2 separate regions of the Homo sapiens genome follow, and region 2 is linked to region 1. The links come from fine-mapping of genetic effects on gene expression. A gene starts in region 1. The other region holds a variant in brackets. All regions are shown on one strand. Distances are between the middles of the regions.

What was found.
Region 2: its variant is fine-mapped to the expression of MYD88 in whole blood (TOPMed, PIP above 0.99).

What each region holds. Positions count from the first base shown.
Region 1 is chr3:38,136,544-38,141,915 of GRCh38, reverse strand. MYD88 (MYD88 innate immune signal transduction adaptor) reads right to left here and starts at 3,255. Exons shown (of 5, transcript NM_002468.5): 1 at 2,888-3,255; 2 at 1,918-2,052; 3 at 1,348-1,528; 4 at 1,068-1,159; 5 at 1-784. The coding sequence starts at 3,215. The coding sequence ends at 630. ACAA1 (acetyl-CoA acyltransferase 1) reads left to right here and starts at 4,789. Exons shown (of 12, transcript NM_001607.4): 1 at 4,789-5,051; 2 at 5,231-5,324. The coding sequence starts at 4,881. RefSeq lists enhancers at 2,532-2,661, 3,162-3,571, 2,731-3,674.
Region 2 is chr3:37,974,652-37,980,023 of GRCh38, reverse strand. CTDSPL (CTD small phosphatase like) reads right to left here. Exons shown (of 8, transcript NM_001008392.2): 7 at 4,130-4,315. Among named protein-coding and RNA genes, the nearest start is that of MIR26A1, 7.9 kb to the right of the region's middle. The variant G/A (reference allele first, on the strand shown) is at 2,814.

The sequences.
Region 1 (5,372 bases):
CCATTAGGAAATAAGGCTCAAGGTGGGGTCTCCTTGGGCTGGGCCAAACTGCTTCCCCACCTGCCCTGTGGGGAAGGAGGAAGTGGAATGGGCGGTGTGCAGAGGCACTGAAGCATCAGTAGGCATCACTGTGGAAGAAGCTGCCCCAGCAGTGTCGTGGTCACAGCAGTGGCCAGCATGTAGTCCAGCAACAGCCAGCTCTCCCGCAGCCAAGCCTGGTCTCCCCCAGGAGACCCAGAGCTATGCTTCACCATTTCCTACAGGGATTCAAACACAGCTACTCTCTGTTCTCCCCATCCCACTCCTCAAGTGAGGAAACTGAGGGTGAAGATGTGTGAATGGCTCAGAGCTGAGCTGGCTCTGCTGGTCCTTCTTAGTCTCAGCTGGTCCTGTTCTATAGTGTCCTGGCTGATAATCCAGCAAGTGGACATGCCACTCACAGCCACTGGTTCCATGCAGGACATGAAATGTGATGTCCAGCTGCTGCAGACGTGTCTGTGAAGTTGGCATCTCCAGGAATTGAGAGGTAAGTAGAGCACAGATTCCTCCTACAACGAAAGGAGGAGGCAGGGCAGAAGTACATGGACAGGCAGACAGATACACACACACCCAGGGCCTCAGAACAGTCTTCAGGGCAGGGACAAGGCCTTGGCAAGGCGAGTCCAGAACCAAGATTTGGTGCAGGGGTTGGTGTAGTCGCAGACAGTGATGAACCTCAGGATGCTGGGGAACTCTTTCTTCATTGCCTTGTACTTGATGGGGATCAGTCGCTTCTGATGGGCACCTGCAAGCCAAGGGGTGCCATGCTGGCATCAGGCCCTTGCCCCATGGTGGGACAAGCCCAGTCTTCAACCCCAGGGTTAACAACAGCCATCCCCCATCTAAGTACCCCTGGCACACATTCACTCACACAAAAAGGCACACACATGCACACATGCTCAGGTGTGCAGAGATCTTCAGCAGTTCTTTGGTACTGCATCCACAGTCCTTGGGGAGGGAAGGCTGACAATCCAGAGGCCCCACCTACACATTCCCTCATTCTCTTGCCAGAGCAGGGTTGAGCTTACCTGGAGAGAGGCTGAGTGCAAATTTGGTCTGGAAGTCACATTCCTTGCTCTGCAGGTAATCATCAGAGACAACCACCACCATCCGGCGGCACCTAGGGGAGAGTGGGCAGGCTGCAGGTCCTGTGGCAACTTAGTTCAGCATATCCCCTGGGAATAGCTTCAGGAAGGGCCCACTGTGCCCAGGCTGGACAGTGCACAGCTAGGAGGAGATGCCCAGTATCTGGACCCCAGGGCAGGGCTTCATGCATCCACGCACCCACCCCGTGGCCTTCTAGCCAACCTCTTTTCGATGAGCTCACTAGCAATAGACCAGACACAGGTGCCAGGCAGGACATCGCGGTCAGACACACACAACTTCAGTCGATAGTTTGTCTGTTCCAGTTGCCGGATCATCTCCTGCACAAACTGGATGTCGCTGGGGCAATAGCAGATGAAGGCATCGAAACGCTCAGGCATATGCCCTGGGTGCAGAGCACAAGGGTGGTGGTCAGAGCTCCATGGGAAGGCTTGGGAGGGATCCAGCCAAGAGTCCCCTGCCTAGGCAACCCTGGGCCCTGCACCCTTCCCAAGATGATACTCCTCAGAGAAAGTGCCCTTTCCAGGAGAGGAAAGATGAGTACCTCAGGGGCTAAGCTCTGGATTAACCACGAGACAGACATTATTTCATGAGCATCTCACAGCAATCCAGAGGTAGGACTATTATCTCCATTTCTTAGGTGAGGAAACTGAGGCTCAGAAAGATTAAGTGACTTGCCCAAGGTCTCACAGCCCATCTGCTTCAAACACCCATGCTCTTAACACCACAATGTCCTATTCCACCTGTCCCATGGGAACAGTATTGGACCCTTACCCAGGGGGTCATCAAGTGTGGTGATGCCCGCCAGCTCTGCTGTCCGTGGGACACTGCTGTCTACAGCGGCCACCTGTAAAGGCTTCTCAGCCTCCTCCTGCTGCTGCTTCAAGATATACTTTTGGCAATCCTCCTCTGTGGGGAAGAGACAGAGTAAAGCAGCCTCCCTGGGAGTGCCTACCTCTTTACCCACAGTCAGGATCCAGCCGCTGTCCCACCTCCTCTGGCTGGGTTGTTCTAGAGGGCTTCCCCAGTTCACTGGTGCCACGCGAAGCTCAACGGCTCTGAGAAGTTGAGCTCCCACTGGCTCTAACTGACCCAAAGGGATGTCAGTGGTGTTCTGGCTTTCTGGAAGGCCATCAAAGTCAGGTTTGTATCTCTGTCCCTTCCTAGGGATCCTAAGAATGGTACCAAGGTAGGTCTGCTTCTTCTGGGATCCAGGGCAGATGTGAGCAAGGGGCTGGGCATGCCAGAAAGGCTCAGGAGACCCACTGGTTATGGTGCAGTGATTCCAACTCAGCAAGGTGTGCCTGTCTGTGGGCGGCTGTATCCAACGCCTATGCATGTATATTATGTAAGTGCCAGTGAGTAGAAAGAAGGGCTGCATTTCCCCAGGACTTGAGGTTTCTAAGACAGTCCACTGTCAATCGCCCCACCTGTCCTGTTGCTCTACTTGAAACAGCCCAGATGCCCCCACAGAAGCCTGATTCTGACTCCTGGCCCTACCTGAAAGCCTCTGCCTAAGCTGCTTCCTTCCCATCTCCGCCTATCCGGACCTTTCTCCAGTCCTTCTTAATAACCGCGACCGGTTATTAAGAAGGAACGGGACCCGCATGGTTCTCCCTCTGCAGGCTTCTTCGGGCCCCCGAGGCAGGAAATGGGGTCTCTCCATGGGAGACAGGATGCTGAGGCCGCGGAAAGTCAGCCTCCTCACCCCCCAGGTACGAGGCCAGGAAGGGGACGTCCTCACCAATGCTGGGTCCCAGCTCCAGCAGCACGTCGTCGCGGCCCAGCTTGGTAAGCAGCTCGAGCAGTCGGCCTACAGAGGCGCCAGGGCGTCCCTGCCAGGCGTCCAGCAGCCTGCCAGTGGGGTCCGCTTGTGTCTCCAGTTGCCGGATCTCCAAGTACTCAAAGTCCATCTCCTCCGCCAGCGCGGTCCAGTCGGCCGCCACCTGTGTCCGCACGTTCAAGAACAGAGACAGGCGGCGCCGCACTCGCATGTTGAGAGCAGCCAGGGGAAGGGAGGATGTGGAGGAGACCGGGGCCGCAGACCCCGCGCCGGGACCTCCTGCAGCCATGGCGGGCGGTCCTGGAGCCTCAGCGCGGTCGGGTCGCATTGTCTGCCAGCGCTTCCTCTTTCTCCTGCGGCACCCGCCCCGCCCCGCCGGCTTTCGCTTTCCGAGAAGCGCCGCCCTGCCCTACAATCTGGAGCCCCGAGCAAAAGTGCGGAGGCGGGGGTGCCCACCTCTACCCTTGAGGTCTCGAGGCGGGTGATGTGGGGGGCGTAAGAAGTAGGAATCTGCCTTTTGAGATCTGGAGAGGTCCACGGCACCGCCCTCGAGGGTCTGGTGATGGTGCTAGTAGGTTGGCGGCGGAGTGAGGACGACCCTCCTTCGGGGGTTGTAGGAAACGGGCCTTGCTTTTTGGGATCTGGTGGAGCCACAGTTCTTCCACGGAGGAATCTGAGGGGTTCATACGGTCCTGCCCTCGAGGATGGCGAGGAGGGGACAAGTGGGAAGGCACCAGCTCTGCCCTCCACTGTCTCTGGGGAACACGCAATCCTGCCAGTAGGGGTATGGGAAGACCCCTGCTGTGCTCCCCGAGGTGGGAGTGGGAAACGGACAGCTGCCTTCTGGAGCCTGAGGCATGCCGTGGCCCTGCCCTCGAAATGGTTGGGGACGTCATGACACTAGGTTGGGGAGCACAAGGCACCCTGTCCTTTGGTGTCTGTGGAAAGCCCAGCACTACTCTCCAGGGTCTCAGGTGAAGACATGGCCCTGCTATTGGGAGTCAAGGGGGCACGTGGCCTTGCCCTTTAGGTTTAGGGACACAGTCCTGACCTGGGGAGCCCTGGTTCATTCATTTACTCATTCGACAAGTACTTATTGATCATCTACTAAGTGTCAAGGGTGTCGCAGGCTCCCCGGATACATGGTACCTCTCTGCCTTGGTGGAGACCCCAGCCTAGCACGGGAAATGGGCACTAATAAAATCATTCCAATTGGGTGTAAAACTGGTAAAAGTGTGAAATGTTCATTCTCCAGTTAGAGAGCTTGTCACACCCCGCATGTCTGTAAAATCTGTTCTCCCGGCCAGCCCGGAAGCCCAAATTCCCTGTCTTCTCGAAAGAATGGGAAAGCCCAACCACGTCGGAGCAGGACTCGGGCGTCTCGGAAGTATTTAGGTCCCCCAGCTCGGGTACTGGGACCGGAGGGATAGCAGAGCCTCCTAGGAAGTGGGTAGAGGAATTAGAGCCTCGGCTTCCATCTCCAGCCCCCAAGCAGTAAGCGGTCCTGGCTGCCCAGCCTTCCGTTTGGCTGCGGGCAGGAGACAGGGATTTGGGGGTCAGGTCTCGGGTTTGGCTACAAAAGGTGGAAAGACTTCCGGTCTGCATTTCTGGGCGGGGATTCGTAAAGATACACCTTCTGGTTGGCTGCGGTAGGCCAAGGTAGGCGGGGCATTGAGTGGAAAGCTCGGCTGGGCGGTGCCTGTGGGCCCTCCTATAGAGGGCTTGGTAGGCGGTGGCGGGGAGGGGCGGGTTCCCAGGCCGACTCTCCTTGTGGTTGGCTGAGGCTGGAGGTGGACGGGACTTTTGGAGGGTCGCTCGCGTCTGTTCGCAGAGCTGTGGGCGGAGTTGAGGCCTTGGAGGCTGAGATGTGGTTCTGCGCGTGTGCGGACGGCTGTCTGTTAACTCCGCGGTCAGTTCCCGGACTGGTGGCTGGTCTGCAGGGTTGACCTGCGCAATGCAGAGGCTGCAGGTAGTGCTGGGCCACCTGAGGGGTCCGGCCGATTCCGGCTGGATGCCGCAGGCCGCGCCTTGCCTGAGCGGTGCCCCGCAGGCCTCGGCCGCGGACGTGGTGGTGGTGCACGGGCGGCGCACGGCCATCTGCCGGGCGGGCCGCGGCGGCTTCAAGGTGAGGCCCGAGGGTCTGGGCGCCGAGTGTGGGAAGACGCCGGCGCGGGCTGGGGTCCGGTTCGTATGTTTGGTTATCCTGGACGCCGGAGGCAGCTCCGCACCCAGCTGTGGTCGCTTTGTCTCCCTGGGGTGGGCATGGGGGAGTGGGGGTCACTGCGGCTGCTCTTTCTGCTGCAGGACACCACCCCCGACGAGCTTCTCTCGGCAGTCATGACCGCGGTTCTCAAGGACGTGAATCTGAGGCCGGAACAGCTGGGGGACATCTGTGTCGGTGAGCGAACCACTCAGGCCCTGCGCTGGGCCTTCCCCGTTCTTCCGT
Region 2 (5,372 bases), 160 kb after region 1:
ATTACGTAACTTTGAAAAATAAAGTAAGGACTAATAAAGAAATGACTACGCCTAGGGGATGGGGAGAGAGTGGAGGAGAGGGCAGAAATGGACACACTTCTCTGTCTTTATTTATAGTTTTGATGTCGGAACCATGTAAATGTGTTATATAATTAAAATACAATTAAACCATTAAGAAAAAAAGCAATAAAAGTGAATCTAAGTGTATATAAAATTGGTGACACAACCACACAATTACTTCAAGTGATTTGTGTGTGTGTGTGTGACACAGCGTCACACTCTGTCACCCAGGCTTGAGTGCAGTGGCAATCATAGCTCTGTAGCCTTGACCTCCTGGGCTCAAGTGATCCTTCCACCTCAGCCTCCCAAGTAGCTGGGACTATAGGCATGTGGCACCACGCTTGGCTAATTTTTTTTCTTTTCTTTTTTTGAGATGGAGTTTTGCTCTTGTTGCCCAGGCTGGAGTGCAATGGTGTGATCTTAGCTCACTGCAACCTCCAACTCCTGGGTTCTCCTGCCTCAGCCTCCTGAGTAGCTGGGATTACAGGCACCTGCCGCCATGCCCAGCTAGTTTTTGTATTTTAGTAGAGACAGGGTTTCACCATGTTGGTCAGGCTGGTCTTGAAATCCTGACCTCAGGTGATCCACCCACCTCGGCCTCCCAAAGTGCTAGGATTACAGGCATGAGCCACCACCCCAGCCTTTTTTTTTTCTTTTTTTTTTAGTAGCGACAGGATCTTGCTTTGTTGTCCAGGCTGGTTTCAAACTCCTAAGCTCAAGTAATCCTCCCTCCTCAGCCTCCCAAAGTGCTGGGATTGCAAGCAGCCAGGTAAGCCACCAAGCCTGGCATTCAAGTGATTTTAAAACATGGTGTTATAACTGTACATCTCTCTAAAAATTCCTAAACTGCATAGAGTTGTCTTATTATTAGCCATAATTTAGTACCGCTACTGAAATTATTAAACATACACTACAGATCAATTATATAATTATGTTAATATCTTTAGAAATCAAGAGTTGCAGCATAAGAGAAAGGGATACAAAAACAAAACAAGCAAAGAAGTTACATAAAAACGTAACGTTGTATTGGAAAAACCAGTATGAACTTATGATTTAGTTTTCTTTCTAAAAATATGTCATTTTTAGCTCTGCCCTGTAGTATGGGCTAGAAGTAAAGTATATCCCATTAGCAATGAAAATCCACCTAAACTGTGGTCTCTAAATACCACTTCCACTAATAGGGACCAGGCACCATACAAAAATGGCTGGTTCCAGGGCTGAGGCAAGAAATGTTCATCATGAGCCTGGAACATCTTGTTGTTTAAGAAAGTAAGGAAGCTACAGGTTGAGCATCCCTAATCTGAAAAATCTGAGTCCCGAAATGCCTCAAAATCCAAAATTTTTTGAGCAATGGCACCACAAGTGGAAAATTCTACACTTGACCTCGTGTGCCAGGTGGTAGTGAAAACACAGGCACATGATACACAGTTTATTTAGTGTCCCCAAATTATAAAAAATATTGTATAAAATTACCTTTAGGCTATGTGTATAAGCTGTACATAAAACAGAAATGAATTTCATGTTTAGACTTGGTTCCATCCCCAAGATATCCAATTATGTATATGCAAATATTCCAAAATCCTAAAAAATCCAAAATCCAAGACACTTCTGGTACCAAGCATTTTAGATAAAGAATATTCAACCTATATCAAAGACTTGTTATTAGTGTCCATAGCCAAAGGTGAAAATTAGAGCATGCAAAAGAATAATAAATGGACTGAAACTACAACAAATCCATGAGTTCATAATGATACTAAAAAAAAATTATTGGCTACTTTTGGAGGCCGCTAGAACACCAACTCATTAGTCTGAAAATAGAAATTGCCATTTTGCAATTCCTCATGAAATAGTGGGTGTAGACAATGATCACCAACAACTGCTAAAATTATGAGGTGAAAGGTTCATGGGAGAATTTTATAATAGATGGATCAGGCTAACACCACCTGAACCCAATGATGAATTTTAAATCTTTAAAAGTGGGCTAACCTGACATTTTATGCCTCCTTGATATGATATCTTCATAAGCGTATAATACCCATGATGTATTATTTTTTTCTTCTTTTTTTTGGGATAGGGTCTTGCTCTGTCACTCAGGCTGAAGTGCAGTGGCATGAACATGGCTCACTGCAGCCTCGACCTCCTGGGCTCAAGAGATCCTCCCACCTCAGCCTCCCAAGTAGCTGGAACGACAGTGGAACCACAGGTGTCTGCCACCCCGTCTGGCTAATTTTTTTTTTTTTAAGAGATGGGGTCTTGCCATGTTGCCCAGGCTGGTCTCAAACTCTTGGGCTCAAGTGATCACCTGCCTGGGCCTCCCAAAGTGCTGGGATTATAGGTGTGAGCCATTGCATCTGGCCTCTATGATATATTCTTGCAAAAAAAAAAAAAATCGAATCTAATCAAGCAGTAGAGCTCTAATTACTTGTTTAGAGGATATAAGGTGGCTATAAGAACATATTAAACATCATCACAAGACAGCAGCTGGACAAATCCAGAATGTAGGAGATTTCTACAAGACAAAACACCAGGGCTTCTTCAACAAATAAATGGCATAAAAGAGAAAAGGGGAGGAAAGGGAGACGTGTTAAGATTGCAAAAGAATGAAGAGACATAGTAACCAAAGCAATGCATGGATCTTTTTGGATCCCGATTGAAATACTCCAAATGCACAACACTTCGAGATGATAGGGACAATATGAACACAGTCTGGATATTAGACAATGTAAGAAACTGTTACTTTGTCAGATCTGACC[G/A]TGACTTGTGATTATATTAAAAAGCAATCCTTATCTGTTAGAGACACGTTACCAAATATATTATGTTGAATTTGATTTACTCAGTAAAATGAACACATTTACATAGAAATACATTTGGAGTATTTATTCAAATAATGATTCCACACTAGCCAAATTAATTGAGTTTGAATTTTTTTTGGTTATAAGCGAGACTGCAGAGTTCTGGATTCAAGGAAAGGACTTTGCAGGCTTTTGTAGAATCTGAGAAGCCTGTGCTTGAGAGGAAGCATCCTCTCCAGGGAAAAATGCCTGGTCTAGGGGCCTGATGTGGCAGAGACTGAGGGGTCAGCAGTCACCAGAGGCCCTGGTTGGCCTCTTTTCCCCTGGAAGTGTCAGGCAGCAGGCAGGAAGGCAGTCCTTCTTGCCCTGAGAGTTGTGCTGCACCCAGTGAGTAGGCACCGAGAGCTGCCATGGTCCAGGGAGCTTTATGAATGAAATGTTCCCAATGGGTGCTTTTTAGACATCATGATGAGGTAGCAAAGCTTGGCAGTCTTATTTGAAGACCTTATTGAAGTGTTTTATTCATTTTTTTTTTTTTTTTGAGACGGAGTCTCCATCTGTCGCCAGGCTGGAGTGAAGTGGTGGGATCTCAGCTCACTGCAACCTCCGCCTCCCGGGTTCAAGTGATTGCCCTGCCTCAGCCTCCCGAGTAGCTGAGACTACAGGTGCGTGCCACCAACGCCTGGCTAATTTTTTGTATTTAGTAGAGACAGGGTTTTACCATGTTGGCCAGGATGGTCTCGATCTCCTGACCTTGTGATCTGCCTCGGCCTCCCAAAGGGTTGGGATTACAGGTGTGAGCCACCACACCTGGCCTATTCATTCTTAAGAAATACTTCTGTTAAAGAGATCAACCAGGCCTCCTTAGTCTACAGGGGTCATGAAGTCCTACGCAGTAGCTGGCTCCAGGAGGTTACTGCCAGCAGAACCCTTGTCAATAACAATACTAAAAATGTCAATAAGACGATACAGGCTTATAGAGCATTTACCAGTCTCAAGCACTATTCTAAGTGCTTTTTATATATTGCCACACTGCAACCTCCAATGATCCTATGAGATCAGCATTCCTATAATTCCCATTTGACAGATGAGGCAACCGAGGCTCAGTGAGGTTAAATAACTTGGTCAATGACACGCAACTGCTAAATGGCAGAGCTGGGATTTCATTAGGAAAAGGCCCAGAGACCTTCTTGTGTAGGTGCTCAAAAGTGGTACCTGCCTGGCAAGACAGAGGGCTCAGATGGAGCACGACATTTTCTTTCTTTGGGGCCACTTACTGCATTCTCAGGATGGAAGATGTATGAGGCAGGGGAATTGTCAACAATGATCACTTTGCTCAGCTCCCGCCCAAGGCGACTCAGGTCCTTCACGTAGTTCCCACGATGAAAAACACATGATTCTCTGAAGAGCCGGGCCCGGAACACACCCCAGCGGTCTAGGAGGTCAGCCACAGGGTCTGCATACTGGAAAAGACGTGTCACAATGAAGGCTGGGTGTTTAAAAGAGCCCCCCAAACCCTGAACTACAGCAGCAAGATCCAGATTACGTTTTTTAAAAATGGATTTAATAATTAGATGTGTCTTAGGATCCTGGTTATTTTCCTCTCCGTGTACATAAGATGGCACTGGATTCTTCCATTTCTCTCACATCCAACCATCAGGAATTGTCAGTTTCATCTCCAAAGATAGCCTGACTCCATTTGCATCTATTTATATTGCCACCACCCTTAGCCTGGGCCTCGAATCTCTGGCCTGGGATGGCTGTGTGAGCCTCGTGAAAAACCTGTCTTTCCCACGGGGCCTCCTTTCTAGCCCATTCACCTAGAAGCTGTCAGAGTGGCCACTGGAAAACATATGTGCCATCATGTCACTCCTCTGCTGAAAACTCTCCACTGTCTACACACCGCACTTGGAGTAAGGCCCACGTTCCTCACTGCTGCGTCCCACATGGCACAGCTGAATGAGCTCCATCTGGAGCCCCTGGAGCCACACTGGCTTTGAGTATGGTCAGGACCTTTGTACCAGTGTTCCCTCTGCATGCATTCTCTCCCCAGCTCTTTGCAGAACATCTGTCTCCTGGTTTTTCAGGTCTTGACTTCCTCTCCCATCCACCTAGAGCCACATCTATCTTCCTTTCTGGGTTGTTTCCCTCACAGAGTGGAGTACTATGTGGGATTGCTTGATTTCCTCTCTCCTTGTCAGGGCCCAGGCCTGAAACATCCCCACCACCACATCCCTAGCACCTCCCAGAGTATCTACCACAAGAGGGGCTCAGTAAACATGAATTTCACCACTGAATGAATGAGCTGGCTCCAATGTGTCTTGAATGGCATGACACTGCCCCCTAGAGGTCCTCTGGGCACTTGGGCCAGACCAGCCCCTGAGTGACAGGATGGTGCCCAGCCGTCCACTCCCATAGATGCCCATCCACTTCCTTGAAGCCCAGGAGCTGGATGGGAGTTTGAGCCCAGCTCACAGTTGCGGATCATCCTGCCTGGCCCTCTCTCATGACCTAGGAAAT